Regions from separate parts of the Homo sapiens genome. Here all the other regions are reported to be linked to region 1. Evidence: microRNA targets listed by miRTarBase, many of them from high-throughput screens and not tested one by one. Region 1 holds a microRNA gene; each other region holds the end of a gene's coding sequence. Distances are from middle to middle.
Evidence for each region. The annotated mature microRNA hsa-miR-4731-3p reads CACACAAGUGGCCCCCAACACU and lies in region 1 at 3,870-3,891, shown strand. An mRNA with a match to its seed (bases 2 to 7 or 8) in the 3' UTR can be bound and repressed. Matches are read on the target gene's strand: a 7mer-m8 pairs with bases 2 to 8, a 7mer-A1 pairs with bases 2 to 7 and ends in A, and an 8mer does both.

Region 2: the mRNA of MFSD6 is a reported target of hsa-miR-4731-3p. Seed matches in the 3' UTR shown: 8mer at 4,251-4,258 and 7mer-m8 at 4,363-4,369.
Region 3: miRTarBase lists MRPL12 as a target of hsa-miR-4731-3p. Seed matches in the 3' UTR shown: 7mer-m8 at 2,323-2,329.

What each region holds. Positions count from the first base shown.
Region 1 is chr17:15,245,270-15,255,524 of GRCh38, reverse strand. MIR4731 (microRNA 4731) reads left to right here and starts at 3,829; the gene lies at 3,829-3,898. The region is part of intron 3 of PMP22 (peripheral myelin protein 22); the gene reads left to right.
Region 2 is chr2:190,497,621-190,507,875 of GRCh38, forward strand. It overlaps MFSD6 (major facilitator superfamily domain containing 6), which reads left to right. Exons shown (of 8, transcript NM_017694.4): 7 at 1-99; 8 at 2,395-4,694. The coding sequence ends at 2,598. NEMP2 (nuclear envelope integral membrane protein 2) reads right to left here. Exons shown (of 9, transcript NM_001142645.2): 9 at 6,718-10,255. Among named protein-coding and RNA genes, the nearest start is that of NEMP2, 32 kb to the right of the region's middle.
Region 3 is chr17:81,704,935-81,715,189 of GRCh38, forward strand. It overlaps MRPL12 (mitochondrial ribosomal protein L12), which reads left to right. Exons shown (of 5, transcript NM_002949.4): 4 at 1,972-2,106; 5 at 2,190-2,583. The coding sequence ends at 2,306. SLC25A10 (solute carrier family 25 member 10) reads left to right here and starts at 7,350. Exons shown (of 11, transcript NM_012140.5): 1 at 7,350-7,585; 2 at 10,019-10,138. The coding sequence starts at 7,493. RefSeq lists silencers at 2,508-2,637, 5,625-5,919, 6,992-7,661, 7,672-7,781, 7,792-7,841 and enhancers at 5,247-5,947, 5,625-5,919, 6,122-6,391.

The sequences.
Region 1 (10,255 bases):
ATTGTCAGAGATGCAGACACTTTCTAGCTCATTTCTTTGCCATCTCTTGGGTTTGGCTGTCATCTTCAGGAAACAAAAGGCTGCTAGAGCTCCAGCCATCTCATCCATGATTCAAGCAGTAGGGTGGAGAAAGGAGGTGGGGAAGAATGAATCTCCTTTTCTTTTAATGAAATGTGACATGGTCACACCTACACCTATTTACAAGAGAGGCTGAGAAATATAGTCATTCGGCCTTGGGGGAAGCATGGCTTTTCAAATCATAGAAACCTGGCAGCAAATACCTCTCTGTAAGCCTGGTGTGGAATACTTTCCTTGAGGGTTTGACCATCCCCTCCCATACCCAATCATACTCTTTTGCAATAGCTCAGTTGGGCCCTATGCAGTTCCATAAGTCCCAGTTATTTCAGCATTCTTCAAAGAGTCCATCTCTGCTGCATCCTGGGCTCTGTCAGCCACCCCACCATTCTCACATGGGCTCTTCTCAGAAACTTTAGGACCTGTTGAGGCTTCTCTCTCTCTATTTCTACCACCTCTCCAGGTATAAGTAAGTCTTATTATTATTATTGAGACAGAGTTTCACTCTTGTTGCCCAGGCTGGAGTTCAGTGGCGCCATCTTGGCTCACTGCAACCTCCGCTTCCCGGGTTCAAGCAATTCTCCTGCCTCAGCCTCCCGGGTAGCTGGGATTACAGGCATGCGCCACCACGCTTGGCTAATTTTTTGTATTTTTAGTAGAGACGGGCTTTCTCCATGTTGGTCAGGCTGGTCTCGAACTCCCGACCTCAGGTGATCCACCTGCCTCAGCCTCCCAAAGTGCTGAGATTACAAGCGTGAGCCACCATGCCTGGCCATCTTATTATTATTTAATGAGTCCAGACCTCTCTTCTGAATCCCAGACCTGTTTATCCAGCTGTCTCCTGGCCACTTCCCTTGGGATATCTAAGAGAGGCCCCCAAGTCACTAGGCCAGAGACAGTCCTTATCTTCCTCTGCCAATTCAACCCCTCTGTCACTTTCTAGTATTTTAGTGAATGCTGCTTCACCAGCCAGCAAGCCAAACATCTAGAGTCTGCCTTGACTTGACGCGTTTCCTTCTTTCTCTTCTCAGCATTGTCACGGGTCCCTCAGGCCACCCCATTGTTCCAATGCCTGTTGCCCACCTGTGGTCACGCTGCTTCCTCGTTTGTCAGAGGCGCCAGGGCAGCCTCCTAACTAGTTTGCCTGAACCCTTTCTTGCTCCTCTGTGACTCATTTTTCATATGGAATCCAGGCTGATATTTAAAAAAGCACAAACCTAATTATATCACTCCTCATTTTGAAACCTTTCAGAGGCCGTTCATTGGTCTTAATCTTCAGATGAAAATCTTTAACAAGGCCCATCGGAATCTACCTGAATGATCCACTCCTGCTTCTGTTAAGTCTCACCTCCCATCTCTCTTCCCCTCATCTTGGAATTTCAGCGTTTTCTCACGTCCTGAAATGTGAACTTCCCACTTCGGGAGTCTCTCCATTTCTCTTCTGATCTTTCATGCAGGACTATTTCTTGAACAACTCTCGTGTACCAGAGACTATTGCAGGTGCTAAGGTTACAAGAGTGAACAAGAGCTTATGTTTTACTGGACAAACCAGTCAGTAAACATGGAGAATTTGGGGGCAATGGTAAGAACTATATAAGACAGGGTAATGGGATAAAGAGGGATTGCAGTGGTGAAGGAAGGTCTCCTTGAGGAGTGGCCAGGAGCCAGCCATATGAACATCTCGGGGAGGTTCCATACAGAAGGACCGTCAAGTGCAAGATCGCTGGGGAGGGAAGGAGCTTGGCGTAGTTGAGGGACAGAGGGCAGGGCAGACTAGTGGGAACAGAGAGTGAGGGGTAAGTAGAATCACAGACCATCTCAAAGGTACCCCCCACCCCCACTAGGAAGGAGTTGGGTGCACATGGATGCATTTCTAATCTTTGTGATTTCCTTAGACCTGCTGTCTTCCACGGGTTTCTCAGTGGTCCATTTGATTCCAAGTTGGAGTGACAGTCCAGAAGCCTCTATAAGGCAGAATATATCAGAAATTGTACAAGGTAGAAATGCATCGGTATATTTTCAGTGATTATTTTGGGTGACGGGATTCTTATCACTTTGGCTGTTTTCTTTCTTTTGCTGCCTTACCTGTTTTCCTCATTGAGATCTTTTATTTTCACAATCAGAAAATAACTGTGAACATTTTATGTTAGAAAATTGGTTTTGAGTAGTAAGTAGGTTCCCTCTGCCTTGATTAAGAGAGTGGAGCCCTGGGGCATGGCACGCAGGGTCCATGGCGTCGCTTTGAATGAGGCCAGTTCCTGGAGCTTTAGTTTGCAAACTCATACAATCTGGAAGGCTCTGGTGAGGGGGAGGGGTGTGCCAAGCCTCCTCCCCAAGACCCTATGGGTGAGTTTAAAATCTACTGACCCAAAGGATTCAGGCAAAACATTTGCCCTGCTATTGAATGAACCAGTGCTTTTTGTTTTGAAGTCTCCAAGATCCAAATATCAAGTCCAAGTTCTCACAAGCATTCCCCTGCTTTTTGTTTAATTTGTGTGGACCTGACGTGTAGCAGAATGGGTCAGAATACTGGAATTAAGCCACAGGCGGCTTGGGAGCCCAAGAGCTAGAAGGGCACAGTCCTGGCTTGCCCTGGCCCCTGGCTGGTCTTCATCAGCTTCAGTGATGAGGCAGGACCCAGGCAGTTTGTCTTCAGTAAAATCTGTCTCTCAGGGCCTGTCCCTGCTCACAAAGTCCTCTCTTGTCTCAGAAGAAAAGGTAGTTGATAAACTTTTTCATGCTGAGGTGTTAGGCACAAAAAATGTGCCCCTTTTTGAATCACTTTTGTTTTTAAAAAGGAGGCCAGTGCTCAACACCAAAGCATGAAGGGAATTGTTGAGCTTTCCTGTAATCTGTCCCCAAACGTCCTTGGCCACCTCCATTGTCTAAGGGCAGTACCTGCAGCCCCTCATTTCCCAGTGACAACAGGTGGGTCTGCTCTGCCACAGTGTGTGGGCGGGACCAGCACCAGACGCTGAGAAGATGACCACTTACTACTCTTCTTTTCCATTTAAACAGCAGCAGCAGCAGCAGCAGCAGCAGCAGCAGCAGCAACAGCAAACTCATGACTATCAATAGGTTGTGTGAGGAATTAGATCAATGCTTTGGGTTGAAAATTAGAGAAACTAAATCTTGCCAGTCTCAGCAGCCCCCAACCTGAGCCCTTGGTGGTCTCCTATCATCGCTGTCTTCAAAACGATCCCAGACTTGTTTATCAATTTGGTGACACTGTCATTTTGGCAAGGACACCAGACAATTTCCTTGTCTGTGGCTCAGCTTTTGGCCAGATTTTAGAAAACACGGGAGACCTTCTGCATTTATGGGTTCATGTTTTACATTTTAAAATCTTCGTGGCTCCCTCAGCCAACCCATAATCTCTACCCAAGGAATGGCTCTGGATTTTACAGGCTCTTATGAGATGCTGAGACCCTGGTGGTACAAGGGAGGTACAGAGGACGGAATGTGTTGTCAACATGCCAGGATTTCAACCCTTAGGGTTTCTCTGATGCCAATACCCAGGAATTAGTATGAAATGTTTGTTTGAACCTGTGTCTGAACTGTATGACCTGGAATCTATAGTCTTTGCTTTAAAAAAACTTCAATTGTATCCCCAAGATTTCACCAGCACCAAGAAAACATCCCTTGCATTTCAGGAGCAGGGACTGGCCATGGTGCAGCCTGAGGTTGTGGATGTTGATCTTTGGTGCCCGAGAGAAGGCTGTCTGGGATGAAGCCTTCTGACTGTGGTCAGGTCCCTGCCAGTGCTGGGGGCCACATGAGTGTGCAGTCATCCACACACAAGTGGCCCCCAACACTGGCAGGGACCCGGAGTCATCTGGCCCATCCCTCCTTCCTATCCCATCGAGCCACAGACCCCTCTGCAATATGCCTACCACATGTTCATCCTACCACTGATGGGGAACTTATTACCTTCAAGAGAGCCTCTTTTGTTTTTGAAGAGCTAATAGTGAGATCCATTCATGTGTTCTTCAACTCTATTGAGCCTGTCCTATGTACTGGGCACTGTTCTAGAAATGGGGTGCACAGAGATGAACAAGAAAGAGCAGGTCCCTGCCATTGTGCAGCTCACAAGGAGTTGGAGGAAACAGGCAATACACAATACATGCATCACTATGGGTAGTGGAACATGCTCTGCAGGAAACAAATAGGGTGATCCAATGGAAAGTCATCACTGGAGGAATGAGCTGCTCAGGGAAGGCCTCTTCCTTCCATAGTGATGTGGTCTGAGATTTAGAAGACAGGGAAGGACCAGTTATAGGAAGAACCATGGGAAGAAAATTCTAGGAGGTAAAGGGAAGAACCAAGGCCCTGAGTTAGCTGAAGAAAGGAGGGTGGGGAATGCGGGAGAGAGGGATGGGAGCAGGATCGCTGGTGCCTCACAGGCTGTGGTACTGAGAAGGACAGTTGGGACATCATTGAAGGGTTTTAAGCAGAAGAGTGTCATGATTTGATTCATGTTTTGTAAGCTCATTCTGGCTGTTGAGAATGAATTCTGGGGAGAGGCAAGAGTGGAAACTGGGGACCAGTGAGGAGTTTGTGGTCATAGTCCAGACTGGACATGATGATGACACTGAGATGACAATGATGACAATGACAATGATGTTAAGAATACAAACAGCTCACGTAAGTGCCAGGCATTCTTTGAAAAGCAATGCATTTAATCCTCACAAGAACTCTAGGAGGTAGCTGGTGGCTTAGCTAGGGAGGGGAAGTAGAGAAGAAAACAGGTCTCATGACAGGGTTTGCTGATGGGTTAGATGTAGGGAGTTAGGGAAGAATGATTCTAGATGACTCTACGTTTTGGGCTTGAGCAACTGGTGTGTAACTGAATCTTGGACTGAGATGGGGAGACTGGAGGAGGAACAGAAGATTTGCGGGAAGGTGTAGAAATCAGGATTTATATTTTGACCATCAGAGAGGTCAGCAAATCACTTCAATTTAGAAGTCTTTGGCTTAGGGGAGAGGTCTGGGCTGGAAATTCAAAGTCAAGAGTCATTCCTCTATACCGAAGGGTATTCAATGTTGTGGTGCTGAATACAGTTACTTGGGGAGGAGTTGAGAGCAGAAGGCAGAAAAGGGGAACAGGGTTCAGAGCTAAGTCTTGGGCATGCCAGGGGTTAACGAGGGTACAGGAAGGAGAGGAGACTGGGGATGAACAGCCAGTGATGAGGGAGGAATGCCAGGAGATATTGTCACTTAAGAAATTACCTCGGCTGGGCGCGGTGGCTCACGCCTATAATCCCAGCACTTTGGGAGGCTGAGGCGGGCGGATTACAAGGTCAGGAGATTGAGACCATCCTGGCTAACACGGTGAAACCCTGTCTCTACTAAAAATACAAAACAAAATTAGCCGGGCGTGGTGGCCGGTGCCTGTAGTCCCAGCTACTCGGGAGGCTGAGGCAGGAGAATGGCGTGAACCCGGGAGGCGGAGCTTGCAGTGAGCCGAGATCGCACCACTGCACGCCAGCCTGAGCGACAGAGTGAGACTCCGTCTCAAAAAAAGAAATTACCTTGTTAAACCCAACACTGCCCCTCTTTTGTCCATTCACTTCTAGTTGCCTTCATTCATGCCTGATGTGCTGGACTTGGGTTTTATCAAGTTGCTTGGCACGTCCTTAAAGAATTTAAATCTCCACAGTGCCTCCTGGACAATGACTGCAGGGTGACCCCCGTCTCTCCTCTACACGATGACTCTTCAAACAGTTGACGATTGCAGTTTTTCTTTCCTTCCTTCTTTCAGTGGCTTCTCTGGTGCTGGTCCCAGCTGCATAAGCAGGGCCTCTTCTTGCCCTTCTGAAGTTTGGTCAGTGGTTTGGCTTGGCAGGCTGATGAGCAGAGAATAAGGGAAGCCGCTCTCTCTTTGCCACACCATTCTCCTTCCACCCTCTCTAGTTTTTGTGGATTCTAAGTCTGAAGAATGGTGGTAGAATAATTTAATTCATTAGATTGCAAGCATATCATTGACTTCTCTGCACCCCCAGTGTGTTGTAGTGGAAAAACTAGTAGTCTGGGCATCAGGGAATCCTTGTTTTTCTGCACCGGGTCTGCCTGTAACAAATTAGGTAACCTGGGGCAGGTACCCTGGTTTCCTAAAAGCAGAGCAGGCATTGAGGTAGGACCTGAAGTTGAGGTAGGACCTGCACATTGCATGGGTCCCGGAGCCTCTGTTCATGTTCAGGATGTAATTGTGGCATCGAGGGATCCTAAAAGGAGGTGGCCTCTGAGCTGGGCCTTGGCAATGGGGTAGAATTGCAGTAGGCAGAGGGAGCAGAGATGGGTTTTGTGCTTGTAAACGGGCATTGGTTTACTGTCACTGGTGGGGGTAGCAGCTCTTTTGTTCTAGCTCTTCATTTCCATAATGCGTGTTCTTTTTTCATACTTTAGGGGAAAGAAGGAGGAGAACTCTATTATTTCTATGGGGAGAATTCCTCCTAAACCTGAAGATCTTAAAACTAAGCGAATTATTCCCTGTTCATTCTCCACTGATGCAGTTCATGACTGCAATTGCAACTGCCTTTCCCGTCATTTTCTATGGCCAAACTCAGTGTTTTTAAGTGAGCTCTTCTTTTAAAAAACAAAAACAAAAACAAGTCTCCTGATAAATCCGTTTGAAAGACACTAAGTTTTGAAAGTTAAGCAGGCTTTGATCATTCATGGTACATTGTGAATTACCAAGGAGGGAGATTGATATCCTTCATCGTACAATGCACTCCCCTCCTTTTTCTTTTGTATCTGGTGGAGTAAGTCTTCCAAGAGCAATTCTTAGAGAAACAAAGCCTACTCTGTTTCCCTGTTTCTAGAGTTTTCCAACAAGGGTATAAAAAAGCCTCAGACAGCTTACTATTATCCAGTAACCTCAGGTACCTCAGTGGCTGCGTGTTATTCCCTTTAGAAGTCCAAAAACTCACTAGCAGAGCAAGAATATGGATGTCAAAGTGCAGAACTAGACCCTGACAAACTAGCTCTGTGCCTGCCACAAAGCCTCTTAATTAGGAATGCAGTTCATTGAATAACTGTATCAAAGTTAGCTGGAATACCTTGACATGAAGATTCCTTCCACTTACTGAGCAGTTTGTGCCCACTAGTGGCCAGACACAGGCTTTGCTCTAGCTAAAATACCCCCAGGATTACCTGTTGAGAGAGCCGCCCACGTCACCTTCATCGCCTTTGTGAGCTCCATGCTGGCACATAGTTGTCTCCATCTGTTTTGCTTTCCGCATGAATCATAGGCAAAGTTAGCCTGACCAGCAAGCCCATTTCAAAGCCACCAGCTGGGGGAGAAGTTGAAGCCCAGGGGGCAAGACCCACGCTGGGCTTTGGGCATGTTTGAGCTGGTGGGCGAAGCATATGGGCAAAGGCCACATTGTTTAGGATGGAGGCCTTTCAGAGACTCAGCTATTTCTGGAATGACATTCATACTGAGAAATAAGGAAAATGGCGATCTGTGTGATGGTTGTGGGTTGGGAGGTTTGGGCGTGGGAGTCCTGGTCTTGGGGTCATGTGTTTTGAAAACAGTCTAGCACTATGCAAATGGGAGGTGTTAATAACTCTTTGCCTCTGTGATTTACCCTCTCATGGCTTTTTCTCTCTTGGCCTCTCCAAGGTCTCTTCTGACTCTTGCAACTGTCCTTCCTTTCACTTTCAACAAAACCTGTTCTCTTGAGTCAGAACAGTTTTATGAATTGCCCAGAGTGGGACTTGATATGGGGCAGGGTTGGTTCCATGCTGGTAATGAAAGATGCACATAAACTGTTACATTGAAAAGTGCTTCATACTTTCTGAGCCCTTAACTCACTAGGTTGTAGGCCCTGGGCTAAGAATATAGCTGAGGGGGCTGATGTATTTCCTTCATTGCTCAGCTGCTCCTACAGCAGGAATCTGACCTTGAAATGAGCTTTGATCTTTGTGCAACTCGAGCTTCCCACTATCTGCTGGGGGAGCTAGGTCTGGGTGCTGCCACGGCCCATGTCAGAAAGCTGTCAGCAGCTCTTATACCGGACACTCTCAGAACAGGAGGCCTGCAAAGAGCTTTAGCTTTAGTTTTGTTGTTGTTGTTGTTTTTGAGACAGTCTCGCTCTGTCGCCCAGGCTGGAGTGCAGTGGCGCCATCTCGGCTCACTGCAAGCTCCACCTCCCGGGTTCACACCATTCTCCTGCCTCAGCCTCCCAAGTAGTTGGGACTACAGGTGCCCGCCACCACGCCCAGCTAATTTTTTGTATTTTTAGTAGAGACGAGGTTTCACCGTGTTAGCCAGGATGGTCTCAATCTCCTGACCTCGTGATCCACCCGCCTTGGCCTCCCAAAGTGCTGGGATTACAGGTGTGAGCCACGGCGCCCGGCCTTTTTTTTTTTTTTTTTTTTGAGACGAGTCTTGCTCTGTTTCCAGGCTGGAGTGCAGTGGTGTGATCTCGGCTCACTGCAGTCTCCGCCTTCCGGGTTCAAGTGATTCTCCTGCTCCAGCCTCCCAAATAGCTGGGATTACAGGCACATGCCACCACACCCAGCTAATTTTTGTATTTTTAGTAGAGACGGGGTTTCACCATGTTGGCCAGTATGATCTCGATCTCCTGACCTTGTGATCCACCCGCTTTGGCCTCCCAAAGTGCTGGGATTACAGGCATGAGCCACCACGCCCGGCCAGAGCTTTAGTTTTTAATTCCAGTGCTCAGCACCAAGGTTGGATATTGGCTTAAAACTTCCACTGGAAACTCCACAAATGTTTAGCAGGCCTCCACTTTGCACCAGGAACTGAGTGTGGCCTGGAGGACAGCAGGTACTCAACATAAGTTCTACTATTTATTGCATACTTGCAAATTGGGTGGGGCGTGGGGAAGAGTATCGCCACACTGGGGCTTGTGTTAATCTATAGTTTAGCCACTTGGGATGTTGGTGTCACACTAGGTTTGATCTAAATAGAACAGGTTTGTAATTGACAGCATTTTCACTTGCATTATATTTCTCTGAACTCGAATCATTATTTTCTGTACAGCTGACTTGTTTTGCTGTAGCAGAGTTTGGCAGATAATAGCTTGCATGTCGAATCCAACCTGCTTTTGTAAATAAGATTTTATTGGATAAATGGCTATTGAAGGAATGGGTCACACCCACTCATTTACATCTTGTCCATGGCTATGGCTGATTTTGTGATACAAAGGCAGAATTGAGTAGTTGTTAAGAAGACCGTATGACCTGCAAAGCCTAAAGTATTTGCTCTCTGATTCTTTATAGATAGTTTGCTATCTGTGCAGATATTTGCACTCTGACTCTGTAGCACCCTTATGCTGGAGAGGAGATATGAATTGATACCAAAGTTGTATCAAAACACTTTTGGAGTTCTGGCCAATGTGCTAATAACCTGGCTTGTGTGAACATTGTGGCTCTCATTTTCTTTTTTCTTTTTTTTTTTTTTGAGACGAGTCTTGCTCTGTCGCCCAGGCTGGAGTGCAGTGGCGCAGTGGCGCGATCTCGGCTCACTGCAAGCTCCGCCTCCAGGGTTCACGCCATTCTCCTGCCTCAGCCTCCAGAGTAGCTGGGACTACAGGCGCCCGCCACCACGCCCGGCTAATTTTTTTTTTTTTGTATTTTTAGTAGAGACGGGTTTTCACTGTGTTAGCCAGCATGGTCTCGATCTCCTGACCTCGTGATCTGCCCTCCTGGGCCTCCCAAGTGCTGGGATTACAGGCGTGACCCACTGCGCCCGGCCTGTGGCTCCCATTTTCATACTGCTTGGTGTGACCCAGATGGAAATGCTCCAGAACCTGGCCCCTCAATAACAGCCTGTAAATGCTTGTTTACCCTGTTTTCTCACATCAGCCTTTTAGGTGGGGTTATTTGCACTATCCTTTAACAGCGCTTCAATAACAACTCTTTTGTTTGATCATTATGACAACCCAATAAAATATATTAGTGCCTCAAGTACGTAAAGCAGAATTCAAGGCCAAAAAAATGTATGTGGCAAGTTAGGTGGGCGGTCAGAAGAACTTGGCAACAGAGCCCAGCCCTGCCTGGGCTGTCCTAACCAGAGCACATAAATGCTGGAGAGAGTCAGGCTTTGCACGTGCTCACACGGGACCCTTACCTTGGACAGGATCAAAGCCCTGTCATTTCTGGAGTGTGTGATATCTGCTGTCTCTTACTGCGCTGGTTGTTACCTGTCTAT
Region 2 (10,255 bases), not on the chromosome of region 1:
TCTTCTCCCTGGGTGACCTTTGTCTATGCACTCTACCAAATTAAAGAGATGATGCAACTCACAAGAGACAACCGTGCTTCTGAGATACAGCCTTTACAGGTACAGTTCCTTTGCTGGGCTAGCAATATTACCTGTCACTCAAGATACCTTAACTGGGCTCAGTTTTAATTACTCACTTTTCATTCAACAAGATTTATTGAAAGTCTGGTGGGGGAAATAGACATGCAAACAATTTCAGTACTCTGTGAGCACTGAGTTAAAGAGGGTGTATACAAGGTCCCATAGAGAGAATATTCTGCCTTATGGAGTTCAGGAAAACTTCAGAGGTTATGATTCTTTCACTTCTTGAAAGAAATAAAATAAATTAATCCATTCTTTCATTGTATATTTGTTTTAAATTTCAGTATTGATGGTTGTCTCTGTAATTCCAAAATTCTAGTGGGGGCATTATATTATAGGACCACAATAAATATTTGTTGAATTAATTAATCTGAGCCACTGTATGGGTCTGATAGGACACCTAACTCAGTGGAATTATGGTTATGCAGGTGGCCTCACCTGAAAAATAAGTCTAAAAGTGTGATTTTTCTTGTCCCCAGAGGAGTGATCTTTCCTGAGTAAAGTTAAAGCATGTTGATAAAAGTGTGGATAATTGTACAGGTGTATCCCGACTTTGGAAAATGAGTGTAACTTCTATAAACAATTTAGCCAAAGAAATAGGCTCAGTTCCCCCATCTCATGATAATCACTCCCTTTTATTTGATAAGTCACGTCAGCTTTGTCTGGAGTAGCTTCAGAGGACACATAAAAATAAAGGGGAAAGATTTAAAAATAAGGGTCATTTGAGTAATTCCCCTTTCAGAAAATTTGTTGAACTGTTAATTAATCTCACTTTGTAAGCTAACATAAAATCTTTGTGAAATTTTAACCAAATCTGGTTCTTTACTGATAACCATATGCATGCTAGTCCATGCATGATCCTATTTATTAATTTATCAAGATAATAAACTCACATCATTACTCTGCTCAGTCAAGAACCAGATATTGTGGTGGGAGATGCATATGGAGGATTTTAATACCTTAAAGCAAGAAGACTAAACAGGAGAAAGGATGATTTTAATATCTGCTGCTTGAGTAGCAATATTTTCATTACTTTGTGTACTCATCCTCATTTTCACAGAAGCCACATAAAATTTTTGATGTGGCGCTTTTTTTCTGGTATGTTAGGATTAATAAATTTTTTTCTGGGCTGGGCATGGTGGCTTATGCCTGTAATCCAAGCACTTTGGGAGGCCGAGGTGGGTGGATCACGAGGTCAGGAGTTCAAGACCAGCCTGGCCAAGATGGTGAAACCCCGTCTCTACTAAAAATATAAAAATTAGCTGGGCATGGTGGCGGGTGCCTGTAATCCCAGCTACTATGGAAGGCTGAGGCAGAGAATTGCTTGAACCCAGCAGGAGGAGGTTGCAGTGAGCCAAGGTCACGCCACTGCACTCCGGCCTAGGCGACAGAGTGAGACTCCGTCTCAAAATTATAATAACAATAATAAATAAATAAATAAAATGTTTCTGGTATGTTAGGATTAATAAAAACTGGCAGGTATGCTGTAGTTATTCTTAGAAGTCATTATACTAAGTTTCTTTTTCTTTCATTGTAGAATCACAGAAATGAACATTTTTATTTGGGTGTTCAGCCAAAAAGTGATGGGTACTAATTTGGGGGAGAATCCATTTAAATTTTTTTTTATTTGTACAACCAATATGGCATTTATGGAAATTGCTGCTGGTGATGTTCTACTCATGGTTATTTACAGTTGGTTACACAAGTGCTTGTTTACATTCACTTCTTTATGTGGATGTTCTGTCTTATCTAACTTTTGGTGCACATTTTGAAATACCAAATATATATCAGGACTCTTAATTACAGGACATTCTTTCCCAGCTCTGCCTCCAAGGATAAGAACCCCTTATTTACCTCCTGTTAGACAAAGTGTCTTCTGGCTCTTGGATTCTGTGGTCTTAGCAAGCGGCCTGAGTTTCAGTTATTCCATAGTGCTTGCCCAGCGACTTGCCACATGGCTTGGGGGGCTCAGTAAATATTTGCTGATGTAAACTGTTTACCAAGTACTAACAGACATTTTGGTAGTAATGTTCCTTTTTCCACAAGACACGTCTGCTTATAGTGTTTGTGTTTTTCATGCGGCTCTGGCAGTTGCACATAGGAAAGGAGATGAAAGGTAAGACATTCTATCCTTATTCCTCTATTACTTGGTCCCTGAAATGGGCACTTCCGGATGATCTCCCCATGTTTCCTGTCTTACTTGAAAGCATATATAAAAAGTTGGATTTATTTGCTATCACTGATCATGGGGCATCTCCTGTTTTTTACCTCCAGGGGACCAATGAGAATAGGGAAAATTCTCCTGCTGGTAGAGCCCAGCCTGTCCCATGTGAGACTCACTCTGACCCATCTAGAAACCAGCCATCCCCTGACGCAGCAGCATCTCAGACGCAGACCAGCCCCGCTCACCCCAGTGTGGACCCGTGCACAGAGGAGAGTGAAGAGCAGCAGGCTCAGCTGGCCGCGGGAGGACACTGAGGGCATCCTGCTCATCTCACACCCTGCATGGAATCAGGCTCCTCAGCCAGGACACAGGGTGAGGCCCCCCAGCCAGGATATGCCTCCCCTGGAGGAGCACAGCACTGCATATGCTTCTAAATATCTAAACTCATTAACATGGAAACACACACACAGGAGCTACAGTACATATTGGCAGGAAAAGGTAAACTTTCGTAATCTCATTGGAATTACAACAGGGAAATGGAGTTCAATGAGGACTTTCAGTTCTTTGCTTGGTTAGGTTAAGGATGATAGAATTTCTCTGCCAGTGCAGTAAGAGTTGAAACCGGCAGTTACACTAAGTAAGTGGAGGGAATGAAAGTGTTTCGAGGTGAATGTGGATATAATTTCCCTCTTCTGATTATTTATTCTTATTTGGTTCCTAACACAAACTGGGAAGAGATAGAATTCATCTATACTTTCTTTTTTCTTGGAGAGAACCGTTTAAAAAATTACAAGATATATTTAAAAAGTAACCAGATAAAAGTAGCACATGTGCTTTTGTTAAAAATAAAGTTAAAAGTTAAAGTTAAAAAATGAAGTTAAAAGTTTCATCAGAAACTTTACATATCTTTAGCAAATATATTTTTATATGTGTATGGCATATAATGGAAATAATTCTTTGAGCAACAGAAGCTATTATTAACTACTGCAAGCTAAGCCGAGCTTAAAAATGCCTTTTGTTTTAAATGGGCTTTGAGAAAAAAAACAGAAACAAGCGATTATTTCAAATCAACCAACCAACTCAGTATCCTGTGTTTTGATAGACAAGAGTTTACTAAATATATTGATACTGTAAATAGCCTCTCTCGCTATTTACTATCTTATAGTAATTCAGGCTCTAATTAGCTGAGGGAATGAAACACACAAAAATCACTGAATTCCTAAGAGTTCCTTAAATAAGCAGTACTAGTTACAAATCACAGTATAAGATTTAAGTGCCTGGGGGAAGGATACAATTTTTAGAAATTACATATTGGGTCAGTTTTGTTTTGTTTTTGGTGAGGAAAAGGTGGTAAATAGGAAACCATGAATGGGAAGGATGGCAATAAGTAGCAACTATACTTTCCAATGACTAAAGAAAGAAAATCTCAGTATATTCGTTCTCATGAAGACACAGTCAGACACTGGACAATGTAATGTATGCAACTGCAAACGTTACAACTGCAGCCAGAACAATGGCTGGGTGGATCGCACGTAAAGCTTGCCACTAAAAATCAAAGCAGAGGTTAACAGGAAACCTGGGGGGAGTGTGGAAAAGGGAAAACTGTTTTAGCTGAATAAAGGTGAATTATATAATTTATAATAGCTGTGGATGAGCACAGGAGAGAGAGGAAAGAAAAGAACAGTCGAAATGAGCAACTCACCTTACCCTCTGACCCTGATTAGACAGGATCAATTGTAAAGTGAGGGCTTCTCCATGACACCATAGTTCTGCCCAATACTGCATTTGGGATAAGAAATTCTACACTTGGATGTCTCGCTTCACAATAAAACACAGCTTAAAAATAAAATAACTGAAAGAAATAGAATTCAGCAAATAGTTATTTTTTGCACTTGAACTGAAACGTACTGTACTGTAAATTATGACTCATTTTAAGTGACCTTTAAAATCAGATGTATTTATTATGCTTGTGTAATTATAGAAATAAAGAAATGGGTGACAGGCTTAACCTCACCTATGAATGTACAGTATGTGGATTTGTGAAACTGACTGTAGGAAGTCAAAAACTTGTACTGTATCTTGTGTTTACAGTTCTGATTTATTCCTTTGAAAAGCCTGCTGTTTTGGAAATGCACAGTTGACATGTTGAAATAAAAATGAATACCATTTTTAAATGTTTCTTAAATGATAAAGATGTGACCAAACAAAAGTCCTATACTCTAATGAATGAGACCAAATTCAACATGCCTTTGTTATGGAACATTTACTGTGACAGCAGAATCGATAATGCAGTCATTTCCAGCCTTGTGAGCTGACACCTTCATGGGTTTGTGGACTTTGTGACTTTTTCTTCCTGTCCCCAAAGTGCCATATGCTACCTTAAAAAATATTAAAGTGAATTCAAATTACATTTTGATTTGAGATTTTGTAACCCCTCTTGAGATCCCTCAACACACACAGGGGTGTCACAGAGCCCAGGCTGGTAATCACTGCCTTAATGACTTACTTCCTACTCTTTCTCCTATGGTTGTAGAAACAGTAAATTACCGAGTGCTGAGCTTGTGTGGATCCAAAGTGGTTAACTGCTAATTATTGAACTATTCCTCAAGTTTTAGGAATAGATTATAATACATACATTGTCCAGCAGGCAGTAAACCTCATGAAAAGTGTTAAGGAATTCACAGGAAGAGCAACCCTGCTTTACTGGCTTATTAATCCTGCCATGGGTCACATGAAGTGGATAGCTGGCTAATAGCTTCCCTCTAATTGGCAATTCCTTCCAGTACTGCTGAGGTACTGAGACCATTACTTAGGCAATATTCCTCTCTGCCAATTTGGAGTTCAGCAGGGAATCTAGGAAAAGGGAACCACATCCGTGGATATTGGGTGCTTGTAGTGTGCTGATGAGATTATCATTTTGCCCTTAACAAAAACTGGAGGTGTTCCTATCACTATCCCCATTTTAAACAAGAGAATTCTGAAGCTAACAGTTTAAGTTATGAGATCAAGGTCACAAAGCCAGGATTCAAACTCAAATCTTCCTAATGTCAAAGCCCTGGTCCGCTTAGCACCTTACCCCACCCCAGGAGGCAGGGAGGCCATTCCCTGCATCTGTTATGGCAGAGGAAGCCATAAAGCAGCCCAGCCTGAACCATTACCATACATGCCTGATATGTGTATGTGTGTGGTTGTATTTCCATTTAGGATTTCTAGATATTCCTAGATTCCTAGAAATGCTTCAAATTCCTGATGCTTTGTGAAATGTAGGTACACCAGACCCTTTACACTCTGCAGGTGAGTTGGCTGGACTGATAACTGCACAGGAAACCCAGAGGTTGGTAGGGACTCTGGCCAGGGCCATGGAAATCAGGAAGGGAAAGCAGACACACCCACAGCTCTGTACTGTCCGGTAGGACTTACTGGGAAGATGGGAAGTTCTCTATTTACACTGTCCAGGATGGTAACCATAAGCCATATGTGGCTATTAAACAACTGACATGTGGCTAATTTTCTGGGGAATTAGGTTTCTAATTAATTTTAAATAGCCACACGTGGCTCAAGGCTACCATACTGGACAGCACGGGTATACAGGAAGAGATCCTTTCGGGAGATCTCTGGGCCTGTTTCCTCAGCTTCAGTGTGAGAGGTTAGAGCTTAAGGTTATGTTGATTCTATGAAAATGAAGGTATGCTTTGACAGTGACTGTAGGGAAGAAAGAGGTGATTTTCCATTTGGAAGTTCTTCAGCCCTTTGGAGCATGGAGACAAGACAAAGGCTACTTCTGAAGCCCCAAACCACTCCTGGGCTTGTTTAGCAAAGCCTTGAGAATATCTGGCTTAAGAATTCCAAACCATGGGGCAGTTGGGAGAGAGGCTGGTGCCTAGGTGGGGACAGAAAAGGGGTGAAAGGGGGAGTGGTTTGTCAGATCTCAGAAAGTAATTTACACTATGCCAGGACAAACTGTGGCTTCTTATAAGGGAGTAACTGGAAACTTGCTGATGTCTAACATGGGGGGAAAGTGAGCCAGTCCGGCTAAGTGCCAGTCCAGCTGTGTACCTAACTCTCAACCAGCTGCCATCTGCTTCAAGCAGCTAATATAGGACCACTTGTCCCCCACTGTGGCTCCAGGAAAGTCCCAGTTTTTAGATGGCAACCCAAGGACCTTACAATGTTGGGGTTAGGAGTGTGCGCCCTGGAGTCACACTGTTTGCATTTGAGTCCCAGCTCTGCCAGTGAGAACTTACACACACATAGAACATCTCTGGGCCTCAGGACCCACCTCTGTAAAACGGAAGTGATTACAGTAGGTATGTAACAGGTTGATGTTTAAAATGAGTTATCTGACATACAGTGTGTGCTCCATAAATACTGCCATTGTTGTGCAGCAAAGAGCCCGGGGCAGGAGGAGCGCTGTCTCATTTCCCCAACCAGGGTCTAGTTCTATTATTTTATTGCCATTTAAATCTATAATCATATTCCATTCTCCCAATCTACAGTGCCATACTATACATATTTACCTATATCTAGTAAGCTGTACAGTAAGGCATTCAATTCCAACATGCATTGTAAACATTAAGTGGTTGGGGATATGAGTTAGTTAAGAGACAAAATTAAGCAAAACTTAAGTTGAAGAGGATGGAAAAAAGTGATGATGGTGACAATTCCATAAAGTGCAAAAGTCTGCTGAGAGAGGTTATAAGTTTCATAATTTTCATTTTTCTTTTTCTTCTTAAAGGTGTCAACAAAAGTAAACAATTTTATAATCATTTAACAAATTATATACCATACTCTCTCCAATAGTCAGTGTAGGATGCTATTCTTTTAAATTGTAAACTTACATTTGAAAAAAGGTCGGATTTTTTTTGTTTCCTGAAAAGATCACTGGCATCTTAGAAAAATAACATGTAGACCAGTGCTACTCAAAGTGTGCTCAATGACTGGTGCTGTCAAACTACTGCTGGTATGTGACAACATAGAAATTAGACATTTCAAAATATGTATGGCAAGTTGACATTGTCATGACATGATCATCGTGCTTATATTCTGTATGTCTTTTCTTTCAAAGATTATTTCATTTTTCTAATAATTTAGTGTATCTTACAAAAGTATTACTAGTGATGAACTAGAGGGAAACTGGTCCATCACCCCAGACAGTCTGAGAAGCACTGACAAGAGCCGCAGACTACAGTGTCCATTGCTGCGGGGCACAAATGACTGGTATGTGTATAACATCAGCAGATGTAGTCACCTCTTGAATGCCTTATCCATGGGGTCATTTCCTTCACTTTCTTAAAAAGATGGTAATAAATAAAGGAAGTAGAATATGAGCCCTGGAAGCAGACATATGGGGGCTTGAATTCTGATTCTACCACTTTAGCTATATGTGTCCTTCAGCAACTTTCTCCTACCTTCTCTGGGTCTTTCCTCATCTGTAAAATGAAAATACCAAAACATATCACAGAGTGGTCATGAGGTGCAAATTAAGAGGTATCGAAGGTGCCTCATATAGTGCCTGATGGATCTCTAGTCAATGTTGGTATTCTTTCCCTTTCTCTTTTCAATCAGTCTTTCTTTTTTGGAAAAACGACCAAATCTAAAAAAACAGATGCCTCAAATTATTTAAATAATAGAGAAGCTACCCACTAACTGTATCTTCCAAGATTTATATTAGATAAGTATAGTATTCATTTCAAATCTCTGGTGACCTATTAAGGTTTCACATTCAGGGATCATAACAAAAAAAATACAGTTACCTTTAAAAGATAATCCAACTCCTAGGCCAGAGAAAGACTAAAGATTTTAACACATCTGAGTAAAAATATGCCCATCAGAGGGGGTGGGATGTTTGTCAATAATGAAGATTAGAAAAACAGCAGTCACAGAGAGGAAAAAGTTGGCAGGACCTGCATAAAGGAAGGCGTGGTCTTTGTCAACAGACCTGGTATCTCATCCCATTAACAAGGCTAGCCCCACTGGGGTGGGGGGTGGCATCTGCATCAAACTCTTTGGCCTCATGACATTAACCATGTGAATTATATAACAAGCTCCCTTTGTTTTGTTTCAGTTCACCAAGTAGCCACCTTATTATAATTTGACCCCTTGTAAATCTGTCTTCTGAGAGAGAATCTGCTGGTCATATCAAGTCAAGTGTTTTTATCCTTATGCTAGTTATATTTTTGGTTGTGAATCACTACCTGTACCAACTATATGAATTGACTAACAAGAGACAGGTCTTATGGTGCAATAACAAAAAGCAGGGTTCTAAGTCAATAAGGCTAACAGTCACACCCAAATAGTTCACTCTTCAATGTCATGCCACCCAGCAGGCTCTCTCAGAAGGCAGCTTGCTCCTGTTGTCACCTAAAAGTACCTCTCTGTCTTCCTGCAGGTGTCTTCAAACTTCCACATCCATTATGTTGTCTATCTTGCTTTCAGTTGGACAAGAAAAGCTAATTTATAAAATTGTACATCTCTCACTCTGGGAAACAATCACACATAGCATAATGTAAGAGAGCATTTCTTTAGTTGACATCATTTCAGGATCTTAATTCCTCCACATATTTAGATATTTTTATGTAATCCATCATCTATTCCAAACCCTCTTAAAATCTAAATATATGAAATTTCCAGATTTTTTTAAAAAGTCATAAATTGAAATATTGTCCTTCATGTCAGATGGACATTCCCCTGTAATTCAGCCCTAGGTATTACTGGCAAACCATACAACTAATTCACAAAGCATTTTTTGTGATATGTAAAATGTGTTTTAAAACCTTTTAAAAATAACACTTGAATGATACGATTGTTTAAGCATAGCCACCTACACTATATCTCACCCACACATCTGGTGTCAAAGAGTTCAACTTGCTAACAACAGTAAGCTTTTGTAGGCACCAAGCATAAGCAGTAAAATAACAAAGGGATCTGTTAGGCTCCATAATTATACACCTATGGTGTGTGAGGCACAAAGCCAACTTCCAACCACCTGTGAAGGGCAGAGCCATTTTATTGAGTGGTCGTTTAAACTGTTCAAAGGCCTTTAAAAAGGGAGGAGGAGAGGAGACAGGAGGTGAGGGAGAAAGAGAAGGGAAGGGAGGAAAGAAAGGAGGGAAACATTTCTTGGAAGAGTTATCTGTACATTGCTTGATGGGGATTAGAATTGTGATCAGTACTATAATACACCCCCAAATCAAATGAAAACAACATAAATACACTAAAAATATCACAAGTAATGCTTCTAATTGTTTAGCTTCTCACAGTAGTCACAAAGCAGAAACTGACAAACCTATGATTTCCTCTAAAAATAAACATGGAAAACAATATCCTCAAGGACTGCTGTTGTTCTTCTCTCTTTGGCTGTTTTTACTGTGATGGTTACACCTGGCTAGCTGCCCATGAAGAGCTGCTTCCTTCCCTCAGCAGTACCTCTTCCCCCTGGCCCAGCGGCTGTCCTGGCTGGGATGTACCTGGCAGCCCCAGCAGATTGTTCATGTGTTATTTACTCATACGCATACGTTGTAGCACACAAACTGCTTCTTAGGAGACGAACTTGGTGAGCACAGGCACTGATACATCTGATACATTTATATCACCAATAAATATAATTTAAAAAAACAGATTAAACCATAAGAAAAATATTCAAACTTCTATTTACTCATAAAATAGTTACCATAAATCTGAATGGAAAATATATCCTTTGGTTTTTTAAAAATCCAAGTCTATATAAAGGCAGATTAACTTTAGTGGATATTACAAAAAAAAAAGTTCCCAGTATGAAAAGATGTCTGGCAAAAACAGACCTGTAAATACTTCAAAGAGGAACTATCATTTGAAAATCAATCTAGGAAGTTCCAGATGGATAGTCATGCTCTTTTTTCATGATTTAGAAAAACTACTTAATTTGGCTCAGGAAAGCAGCAGTGCCAAAATTCTGTCTATCCTTCGCCCATAACCTTTGTCCTGATAAAAAGA
Region 3 (10,255 bases), 66 Mb from region 1:
GCTGAGAGAGGAAAAAGAGGCTGGGCGTGGTGGCTCACGCCTGTAATCCCAGCGCTTCGGGAGGCCGAGACGGGTGGATCACTTGAGGTCAGGAGTTCGAGGCCAGCCTGGCCAACATGGTAAAACCCCGTCTCTACTAAAAATACAAAAAAAAAAAAATTAGCTGGGCCTGGTGGCACATGCCTGTAATCCCAGCTACTCGGGAGGCTGAGGCAGGAGAATAGCTTGAACCCGGGAGACTGTCTCAAACAAACAAACAAAATAAATAAATAAAAATAAAAATAAATAAATAAATAAAAATACAAAAATTAGCCGGCGTGGTGGCAGGTGCCTGTAATCCCAGCTACTTGGGAGGCTGAGGCAAGAGAATTGCTTGAACCAGGGAGGCGGAGGTTGCAGTGAGCCAAGATCATACTACTGCCTTCCAACTTGGCAACAGAGCAAGACCCTGTCTCAAAAAAAAAAAAAAAAAAAAAAGAGGAAAAAGAAAGGAAGAAATTATACCAAATAGAACATTGTAAGCATTGTGGGGAAAAGGAGGGAAGAGGCTCAAGGTGGGAGGGAGAGTTCCAAGTTCAAGGTGGGCTTCAAAGAGGAGGCAGACATTGTAGAAGAGAGCACGGCCTTCCTGGCGGAGGACGGGGAGGCACCAAGGTCACCAGGCAAGAGGGTGTCTGACAATTCAGGGAGCAGCAGCGAGGTACAGGCTGGCGCAGGCGAAGGGGTGTAACAAGCAGCTCCGTCCTTGGGTCTTTGCAAGGAAACCAGTGAACTTGAAGCCGCCAGTTGCGTTTGGTCATCGGGTTGCGTGAACCTCTCCACCGGAGCCCTCCCCTCAGCCCCTTTCCCCCACTGGGGAACCAGGTTGTGTACTGTAGAGTGTCCCATGTTCCAGATGCGTGGGGTGCCCATGGGGCAGCATCACTCATGCCTGAGAACTGGAAGGTAGTTTAAAGGCTGATTAGATTCAGGCCGAGCGTTTGGGTAAGAATAGCTGGGATTACTGTAGAGCCTGTTGTGTAAACTGGATTGCTTTTGAGGAGGGAGAAGATGTTATTAATAGCCTTCCCAGGCCGTGGGGACACGCAGCCCCCTGCCCTCGGGTGGTGCTGGGTCTCCATGCGCCACGTCAGAAGCGCAGCGTGCCCGTCAGTCCCATGGCGGGTTGTCATTTTCTCGGCACACGTGCACTGCAGTGTGGCTGAGAAAGGAATGGCGCTGCTTTTATCTACAAAGCACTTTTGGTGTCGTTCTTTCCTGTCTCATAAGTTACGCTTTCTAAGCGAGAGGGGAGTAGAGTATTGAGGGAAGGACTGTGAAGCATGTTTTTATTTATTTATGAAACCGAGTCTCACTCTGTCACCCAGGCTGGAGTGCAATGGCGCGATCTCAGCCCCCGCCTCCCGGGTTCAAGCAATTCTCATGCCGCAGCCTCCCGAGTAGCTGGGATTACAGGCGCGCACCACTAGAGACAGGGTTTCACCATATTGGTCAGGCTGGTTTCAAACTTGACCTCAAGTGATCCACCCGCCTTGGCCTCCCAAAGCGCTAGGATGACAGGCGTGAGCCACCGGAGCCACCACTCCCGTCCGAGGCATGTTACAAAGAGTTATTGGGCAGACCTGCCTCTGACTAGCATGAGAGAAAAAGCACCAGCTGGACTCGCGAGGCCAAGGCAGGAGAATCGCTTGAACCCAGGAGGTGGAGGTTGCAGTGAGCTGAGGTCGCACCACTGCACTCCAGCCTGGATGACAGAGTGAGACTCCGTCTCAAAAAAAAGAGAAAAGAAAAGAAAAAGCACCAGCTGGTTAAGGATTGATGAGTTGGGAGACGTGACTTCCAACTCCAGGCTTCGCTGGGGCCTCCGCTGCACCTCCCTTTGGGGCTTTAGACTGGGGTGGCCCAGCAGTGGAGGCGTTAGCTCCCCCCAGCCCTTTGTCACCTGGCTCCCCTTCTTTCCTGCTCCCTAAGGCGGTGGAAGAAGATATCCCCATAGCGAAAGAACGGACACATTTCACCGTCCGCCTGACCGAGGCGAAGCCCGTGGACAAAGTGAAGCTGATCAAGGAAATCAAGAACTACATCCAAGGCATCAACCTCGTCCAGGTCTGTGCCGCGGTGGGGGTTCCGAGGCAGGTTCCGTTGTGGTGGCCAGGGCCCCCAGTCCCTGACTTTGCTCTCTCTGGCAGGCAAAGAAGCTGGTGGAGTCCCTGCCCCAGGAAATCAAAGCCAATGTCGCCAAAGCTGAGGCGGAGAAGATCAAGGCGGCCCTGGAGGCGGTGGGCGGCACCGTGGTTCTGGAGTAGCCTCCAGCTCGGAGGACTTGTGTTCAGGGGTCCTGGGCCCCGGGCGAGGTCCCGCCCTCCCGTGGTCACTGGCTCCGCCCCCAGCACCAGGCGCCCAGTGGAGCCGTTTGGGAGAATTGCCTGCGCCACGCAGCGGGGCCGGACAGGCCGCACAGACCTACTGTGGCGGGAGGGAGGGGCGGCTGCTGCCTGGTGACGGCACCCGGAGGCCCACCAGGACGCGCCACCGGTGAATGTGCCTCTGGTGGCTGCTGAGAAAAATACACTGTGCAGCTCAGTGTGTGGAGTGCCGTGCTCAGGCCGGGCTGCCGGGCCAGTGCGGGGATCCGGGCAGCGTGTGGAGTGCGGTGCTCAGGCCGAGCTGCGGGGCCAGTGCGGGGATCGAGGCTGGTACGGGATGGGAGGCTTGTTCCCTGCCTCCTCAGCAGACATCTGAGAGTCTACAGACATTCATCAGGTCCCCGGTGTGCAGGGCCCTGTCCTGAGACCCCACAGTGGGCCTGGTGGACGGCAGTGGTGTGGAGGACCTGGGCAGCGGGAACCCTCCCTGTTTTCAGTGTTGGCCCTCTTTAAGGCAACAGGAAGTTCAGCACTCGCCTGAGAAACCGAGGCAGCCTTGGAGCCGGCGATGCCACCCCTAGCTTAGGCTGCAAGTACCCCTGAACCTAAACCCGGCCACGGGGCTGCGCAGGGGGATTGGGGAGGGGTGTGGGATGCACCTGCCATCTGCAGGGTTGGGGTGTCAGCTGTTCCTCTGGGGCCCTTAAGTGGGGTATCCTGGGACCTGGGCAAAGCGGCAGGAGGGGCTTGTGGACATGGGGACCGGGAGTGCCGTGGTCAGCTTGGAGCACTGGTCACTGTGCACTTGGTGAGGTGTGGCCCAGTGCTGGGCAGCCCTTGGCAGCCACTCTCGGGCTGCAGACCCCTTGGTGCCACTGCTGAGTACAGGGGGTGTGGCCCCATGGCCTGGCTGGAACGGCCAGGGCCTTGCTTTGAGGACCCGTGGCCGCCTTTTCTTGGGCACGCCTGTTTTCAGCCAAGCCTGGGAGAGAATCAGCGAATTTCTGTCTCAGCTGGCCCGTGACCAAGGCCAGCCCCCAGGCTGTGGGCCCACAATGAGGCCAGAGACAGGCCATGTTCCGCACCTGCTTCGGGAAACATGCCTGGTGTGATGGCCCCGTAGGCTGCCATGCCCTCCAGCCTCAGTTTTCCTGGTGGAAGGATCCCTTGGATGGGACCAGAAAGGGGCACCGTGTGTCTGGAAGCTGCCCACTGGCTGGGACTCCTGGGGGAGCGGGAGGGGCAGGGAGTTTCAGGCTCACTGTGCGTGTACACCCTGCCTGGCCCAGGTCCTCTTCCAAGGCCTTCTGGTAGAGTTTCTCTGACTAACCTGCTGTCCCCAGGAAAGGCTGTCCCAAGCCAAGCCTGGAAGTCCCCATTGGCCATGGTATCCATTTTGAGGGGTTAATGGTCTTCCCTCAGGAGGTGACACTGCCACCTGGAGCTGGGTGCATTCTGCCTGGTGCCCTGCTGACCCCAACTGCCTTTCCCCTCTGGAAGGCAGCGAACATCTGAGCTCAGGGACGAGCCCTGCTTGAGGTCAGACAGACATGCTGTCTTCATCCAGGCTGCACCCAGGCCAGATAGACCAGCAAAATCTCTGCCCGCGACTCCTCGCTGTCTACCCTGGCTCAGGCGTCTGCCAGGCCACTCGCAGGAGCCACCGAGAGGCCCTTTCCTCCCTGCCGGGGGACCCCCAAAATAACCTGTGGATGCCAAGCAGCAGGACACTGCGGTGGATGCCAGGCCGCAGTCGGAGGCTGGACGGGGAGCCCTGTCCCGTGAGCTTGCTCAGTCTGCCCCAACCACCCCCTTGGGCCTACCGACATAACTTATGATCCGTTTGAGAATCCATCAGGGATCCTTGTGAGTCCCCGACCTGCAGTTCTAGATTCATCATTTGAAAAAGCCTCTGGCCCTGGATGCATTTCCTGTTTTCAGGATTCCTCGCCTTCTGACTGCTCTCCCAGCATCTCTAGCTCACGGAGTTCACAAACTTCAGTCCCCTACAGCTCCTTGCACTTTTGTTCTATTTTTTTTAATGTTTTATTTACTTATTTATGTATTTATTTTTATGAAACGGTGTCAGTTTGTCACCTGGGCTGGTGGTGCAGTCTTGGCTCACTGCAGCCTCCACCTGCCGGGTTCAAGCAATTGTCCTGCCTCACCTTCCCAAGAAGCTGGAATTACAGGCATGCACCACCACGCCCAGCTAATTTTGTATTTTTATTAGTAGAGATAGGGTTTCACCCTGTTGGCCAGGCTGGTCTTGAACCTTATTTTTATCTTTTTTAATTTTAATTTTTTTTGAGTGAGTTTTGCTCTTGTCACCCAGGCTGGAGTGCAATGGCACGATCTTGGCTCACTGCAACCTCCACCTCCCAGGTTCAAGCGATTCTCCTGCCTTAGCCTCCCTAGTAGCTGGGATTACAGGCGCCCGCCACAACACCCAGCTAATTTTTGTATTTTTAGTAGAGGCAGCGTTTCACCACGTTGGCCAGGATGGTCTCGAATTCCTAACCCCAGGTGATCACCCACCTCGGCCTCCCAAAGTGCTGGGATTACAGGTGTGAGCCACCACACCTGGCCTATTTTTATTTTTTAATATAGACACGATCTCACTCTGTCACCCGAGCTGGAGTGCAGTGGCCTGATCAAGGCTCACTGCAGCCTCAGCCTCCTGTGCACAAGCAATCGTCCTACCTCATCCTCCCAGGTAGCTGGGACTATAGGCACGTGCCATCATGCCTGGCTAATCTTTTGATTTTTTTTAGAGATGTGGTCTCACTGTGTTGCGCAGGCTGGTCTGAAACGCCTGGCCTCAAGAGATCCTCCTACCTTGGCCTCCCAAAGTGCTGGGATTACAGGTGAGAGCTGCCCTGCCCAGCCTTTTTTGTTCTTTGTAAAGCTCTTCAGTTCCTGCTCCTTACCCGCTGGGCCCTGCTCTTTCTGCTTTGGAGCAGTTCTTCCTTCAGCAGGGAGCCAGTGTTCTGTGGGTTGGGGGGTCTCTGCCAGCAGCCAGTTTCAGCCCTGTCTTGCAGGTGGCCTTCGGAGGGACAGGTTGCAGCCCAGGCCCGCCCCCCTCCTTCCTGGAGTGTCTCACAGACTCAGGGGACACTGGCCCTCCAGGCCCTGCTTCCCCCAAGGTTTCCATCCATCGCCTCTTGATTCTTGGTAATCGGGAGCCGATGGATGCAACTCATCTCGGTTTACACTGAGTGAGACAGGCGCTGTGGGCACAGCCAAGTCTGCGGGACTCAGTCAGGTGTGAGCCTGGATGGCCCCGGACAAGGAAGCCTGTCCTCTTGCTGGGAAATTTCCGTTAAGATCGGGCCACTTCCCCTGCTTCCTAACGGTTGAGTCTGTTTGCTCTGGGCCTTTTAAGCCCAGCGTGATCCCTCTGAGTCCCTGCGGTGCATTTGCGCCATCTCCACGCTTCCTGTTGAGCCCCAGCCCAGGCTTGGTGCGGGCAGTGCTGCACTGCACTCTCCTGGTTGCCTCCTGAGCACCTCCACCCGCTTCCCCACCAGGCGTGGCTGTGTTTTCACCCCCAGTGTCCATCTGGCACCCTTCTCGATTGCCAGGTAGTTACGGTCTGTGTGGGCAACACCTGAGGGACCCAACCAAACCAAGGTCCAGGACACACTTCCGGGCAGGGGTACCGCCTCTGGTTAGCTGCTCACTCCCCAGCCCAAATCTTCCGCTGATGACTTCTGGGGTCAGAGGCCACCTAAGGGTCTAGAAAACAGTCTCCTCCAGTTGGCTACCTGCCTACGTTGGGGTTACGGCCCAATAAACCCACAGCCAAGCTGAAAATCCTAAGTGTGCGTCTTGCGCTTCCGACACAGCCAGGGCATCGCTGGATGCGCAGAGGCAGGGCTGGACACATTCTGGTGCTTGAGGGGTTCCAGGGACCACGAGTTGTTTTTCCGGTGCTCCTCACCCTTCGCCCTGGAGGGTGGGGGAGGCCGGACAGCAGTGACCAAGCTGGAGCTGCAGGTCTTCATCCCTGTGGCCCAGCCCTAAAGCAGCCTTGGGGACTTAAATTTCATTTTGCCCAGCAGGTGCACCTGGGCCAGGAACACACCAGCGCCTCCTTGTTCTTCGCAGGGAAGTGGAATCCAAGCAGGGGCCCAGATGCAGGCAGGCATCTCCTGGGAACAAGAGCCCCAGAATCCACCCCGGGGCCCCACTTCCAGGGTGGTTGCCTGGGGCGTCTGGTCAGAGCCAGACCAGAACTGAGCAGGAGCTTCCGGGCATCTGTGTGTGGGAAGGGAGAGGCAAGTCCTTCCTAACCGCCTTTTTTCCCAGTTTTCATTCAGTCTGGCCCCAAGCAGGTTCTTTTTTTCTTTTCTTTTTCTTTTTTTTTTTTTTTTTTTTGAGATGGAGTCTCGCTCTGTCGCCCAGGCTGGAGTGCAGTGGCGCGATCTCAGCTCACTGCAACCTCTGCCTCCCGGATTCAAGCGATTCTACTGCCTCAGCTTCCTGAGTAACTGGGATTACAGGCGTGAGCCACCGCGCCCGGCTCCCGAAGCCGGTTTTCTGTTCTCTTGCAGCTGGGCCGGGGCTGAGCCCTCGGTGGGGGCAGGGGTTGCAGACCTGTGGACGCAGGGCCCACGCCGCACACACGTGGCCCCCGCCAGGTGACTCACGAGCCAGCGCCTGCGCGGCGGGGTGGCCACCGGGTGCAGGTTCAGGGCCAGGGGCCGGGCCTCCTGGGGATTGGCAGGGCGCCCGCCGCGGTCCCATGTGCCTGGGGCCGGTCCCCGGGCGGTGGCCTTCGGCCCTGCGCTCCGGCCTGGAGAAGGGAGGACGCCAGGGGCCCGGGGGAGTGGAGGCGGCCACGCAGCAGCCCCGGAGCACCCGCGCGTCCGCAGGCCGGGCCCACCGCGCTCGGCGCCCCTCGCGGCCGCTTTAAGGCGCCGGGCCCGCCTCAATCGCAGGGGGCGTGGCCTAGCGGTCCCGCCCCCGGGGCGCGCGCGCGCATTGGCTGTGCGGGGTGCGGGCGCGCGGGCGGCGCTTTGAACCGGGCGCGGGGCGCGGGGCGCGGGGCGCTGCGGCCGGTACACGCCGGGGTAGGGCCGGGGTCGGGTTGTGGTCGGGCCGGGATTGGGCTCTCCTGGGCCATGGCAGCCGAGGCGCGCGTGTCGCGCTGGTACTTCGGGGGGCTGGCCTCCTGCGGGGCCGCCTGCTGCACGCACCCGCTGGACCTGCTCAAGGTGAGGCCGGGGCCCGGGACGCGGGGCGGATGGGACCCTGGCGCCGCCGAGACGCCTGCAAAGGCAGCAGCCCGGCCCCACGCACCCGGGGATCGCCGCGCCCGGGGCTCCCTCCTGGAGAGCGCGAGGAGGCCCCCGACGCCCGGATGGCCGATCCCGGGTGGCCCTCCAGTGGTGGCCGCCGAGCTCGAGGCCTGCAGGGCGCAGCCGCGCTCCCCAGCTTCCCAGCCGGCTTCCCAGTTCTCGGCAGGTGGCGATCCAGCCCCAGCTCTACACTTTAATACCTGGTGACCTTGGGGGAGTCACTTGGCCTCTCTGAGCCACCCACCCCCATACATTCAAGAACGCTCCTTCCGCCTAGTTAGAAGTTGTGGGGGGAGTTCTGTGAGGTGCACAGGTGTTGGCATCTAGAGACGTGCTGGCTGTAGCATACCCAGGGTGTGGGCCAAGCCGCCCCCCACCCAGGGGTGTTTAGCACACCGCCGGACGTGTCCCTGGGCAAGTGGGGTGACCCGATGCCCCGGCTTTGGGCTGCTTCCTTCGGAGAGCTGCGTGGGCACTGGAAGCGATGTTAGGACCAGCACACCCCCAGGAGAGATGCCAGGAGACCCTGCACGCGTGTGGTCCTGGCCCTATGAAAGCGGGCGTTTCTCAGCACGAGAAGCAGCCACCGTTTTTTTACTTTTTTTTTTTTTTTAATGCTTATGGGGCAAAATAAGACAGAGCTCTCCTTGTTTCCCAGGGACAGCCAAGGGGCGTTGTTTTCTGACCGTGTCTTGCCACAGAGAACAAAGAAGAAAGGGCCTGAGGCTTTGCACAGTCTGCCCAGCAGGCCCTGCCCTGTGAACCTGGCTGTGGTCACTGGGCAGCCGCCTGTCTAGGGGACCTTTATTTTAGCAGCCTGTCCAGGGGACTTGTATTCCAGCAGCCTTTGAGGGGACTGGCTTTACTAATGAGCAACAATGCTGGTCGCTGCGTGAAGGCCAGGTGAGCAGATGTGGGCGTCTTGGGGCACCTGAGACCTCACTGGTCCTGGGAGAGGCCTTCAGAGCTCCCAGGCCACAGGCAGCCACGGCCAGTGAGATGCAGCCACAGCGACAGGAAGGCGCTGGCATGGGCAGAAGAAGCGAGCCCCTCCTTGGCATCGGGCTCTTCCTTTCCTCCTGGGCGCCGCACAGGTGCCCCTCCCCCAGGGCCTCTCCCACGTTCATCTGGGTGTTGAAGGCGGGACCTGCGTGCTGCTGTCCCTTGTCCGGGGTCTGAGCCCCACTGCCCCTTGGCCCTCCCCAACCAGGCGCTCTCTGGCTGCAGAACACCGCCTGGGGGAGGCGGGACTGCCCTCTGGCCTGGGAGGGCGGGAGGAGCCAGCTGCTGGCAGCATATGGCGCTGTGGTCAGGGTGTGCTCCTGAGGACTGCTCACCAGGCCTCTCTGCCTGGCCGTCGGAAAGATCTTTTAAAGCTTCTTGAGCACTTTGTCCCATGTCCCTACAGTCCCTACCGTCGCATCTGGCCGGGACGGGGGCTGCTACCTGTGTGGCCCAGTCCCTCTGTTCTGCTGGGCTCGCACAATGGGAGGCCCCTCTCTGTCCCCACCCATCTTTGCCGACCCCTGGGCGTGCGTTACGGGGCCGCGCACGTGCAGGTCACACTGAGCGGCGGAAGGACTTCTTTGGGGTCAGTGCTGGGGGTGGGACCCAGGAGCTGGGATCCTGGGCCAGGTGCTGGCCTTCCTGTCTGGCCCTGGCCAATCCCCCTACTGCCGGGAGCTCTCAGCTGGCCAGGCGAGGAGGCAGAGGTCCTGTGAGTGGTGGAGGCCAACAGAATGGGAGGTTGTCGGGCTGACAGCCCCCGAGTGCCTGCCCACAGCTCCTAGGTGCTTTGCAGAGGAGGCCGCTATGCCCTGCCGCCAGCCACACCGTCCCCTTGTCTGCTGCTGAGCTCCTGCTGCCTTTCAAGGCCTTCTATGGCTACCTCCTCAGTCTCCCATGGTCCTGCAGGCTCCCTCGCCGTTTCTGAGCGGCCATAAACGTTTGTCCCTCTTGAGACGTGGTGTGGTGGATAAAAAGTAGGGCTCTGGGGTCTCCTCGCTGGGCCCAAATCCTGATGGCACCAGCGGGTGCGTTACCTCTCCATGCCTCAGTTTCCTCATCTGCAGAAGGAGAATGGCGAGCCCCTGCGGCCAGTGCAGCCAATACTCAGGTGGTACGCGGGGCGCTCGCGGGGCTCGCGGACACTCTCAGCTCCATGTCCACTGGTGTGGTTGCTGTTGGAAAGCAGTGGTGTGAGCTGGTTCCAGGCACGGGTGTGGAGTCCCCGGGCAGGGCCGTGGGAGGCCTTATCACTGCCTCCTGCCTCAGTTTCCCCCTCTCTGGATGAACCTGGCACCGATCCCTCGGGGTCGCTGTGGGGTCTGAGAGCACTCACTCCCGCAGGTGCATCTGCAGACGCAGCAGGAGGTGAAGCTGCGCATGACGGGCATGGCGCTGCGGGTGGTGCGTACCGACGGCATCCTGGCACTCTACAGCGGCCTGAGCGCCTCGCTGTGCAGACAGGTGCGTGGTGTGTGCCAGCCTTGGGCTCCCAGACTGGGGCTGAGTCCTGCAGTGGCATCCAAGCTACTTCCGTCCCCTTTTCAAGACTTTGTGCAAGGAAGGACCCACCAGGCCGAG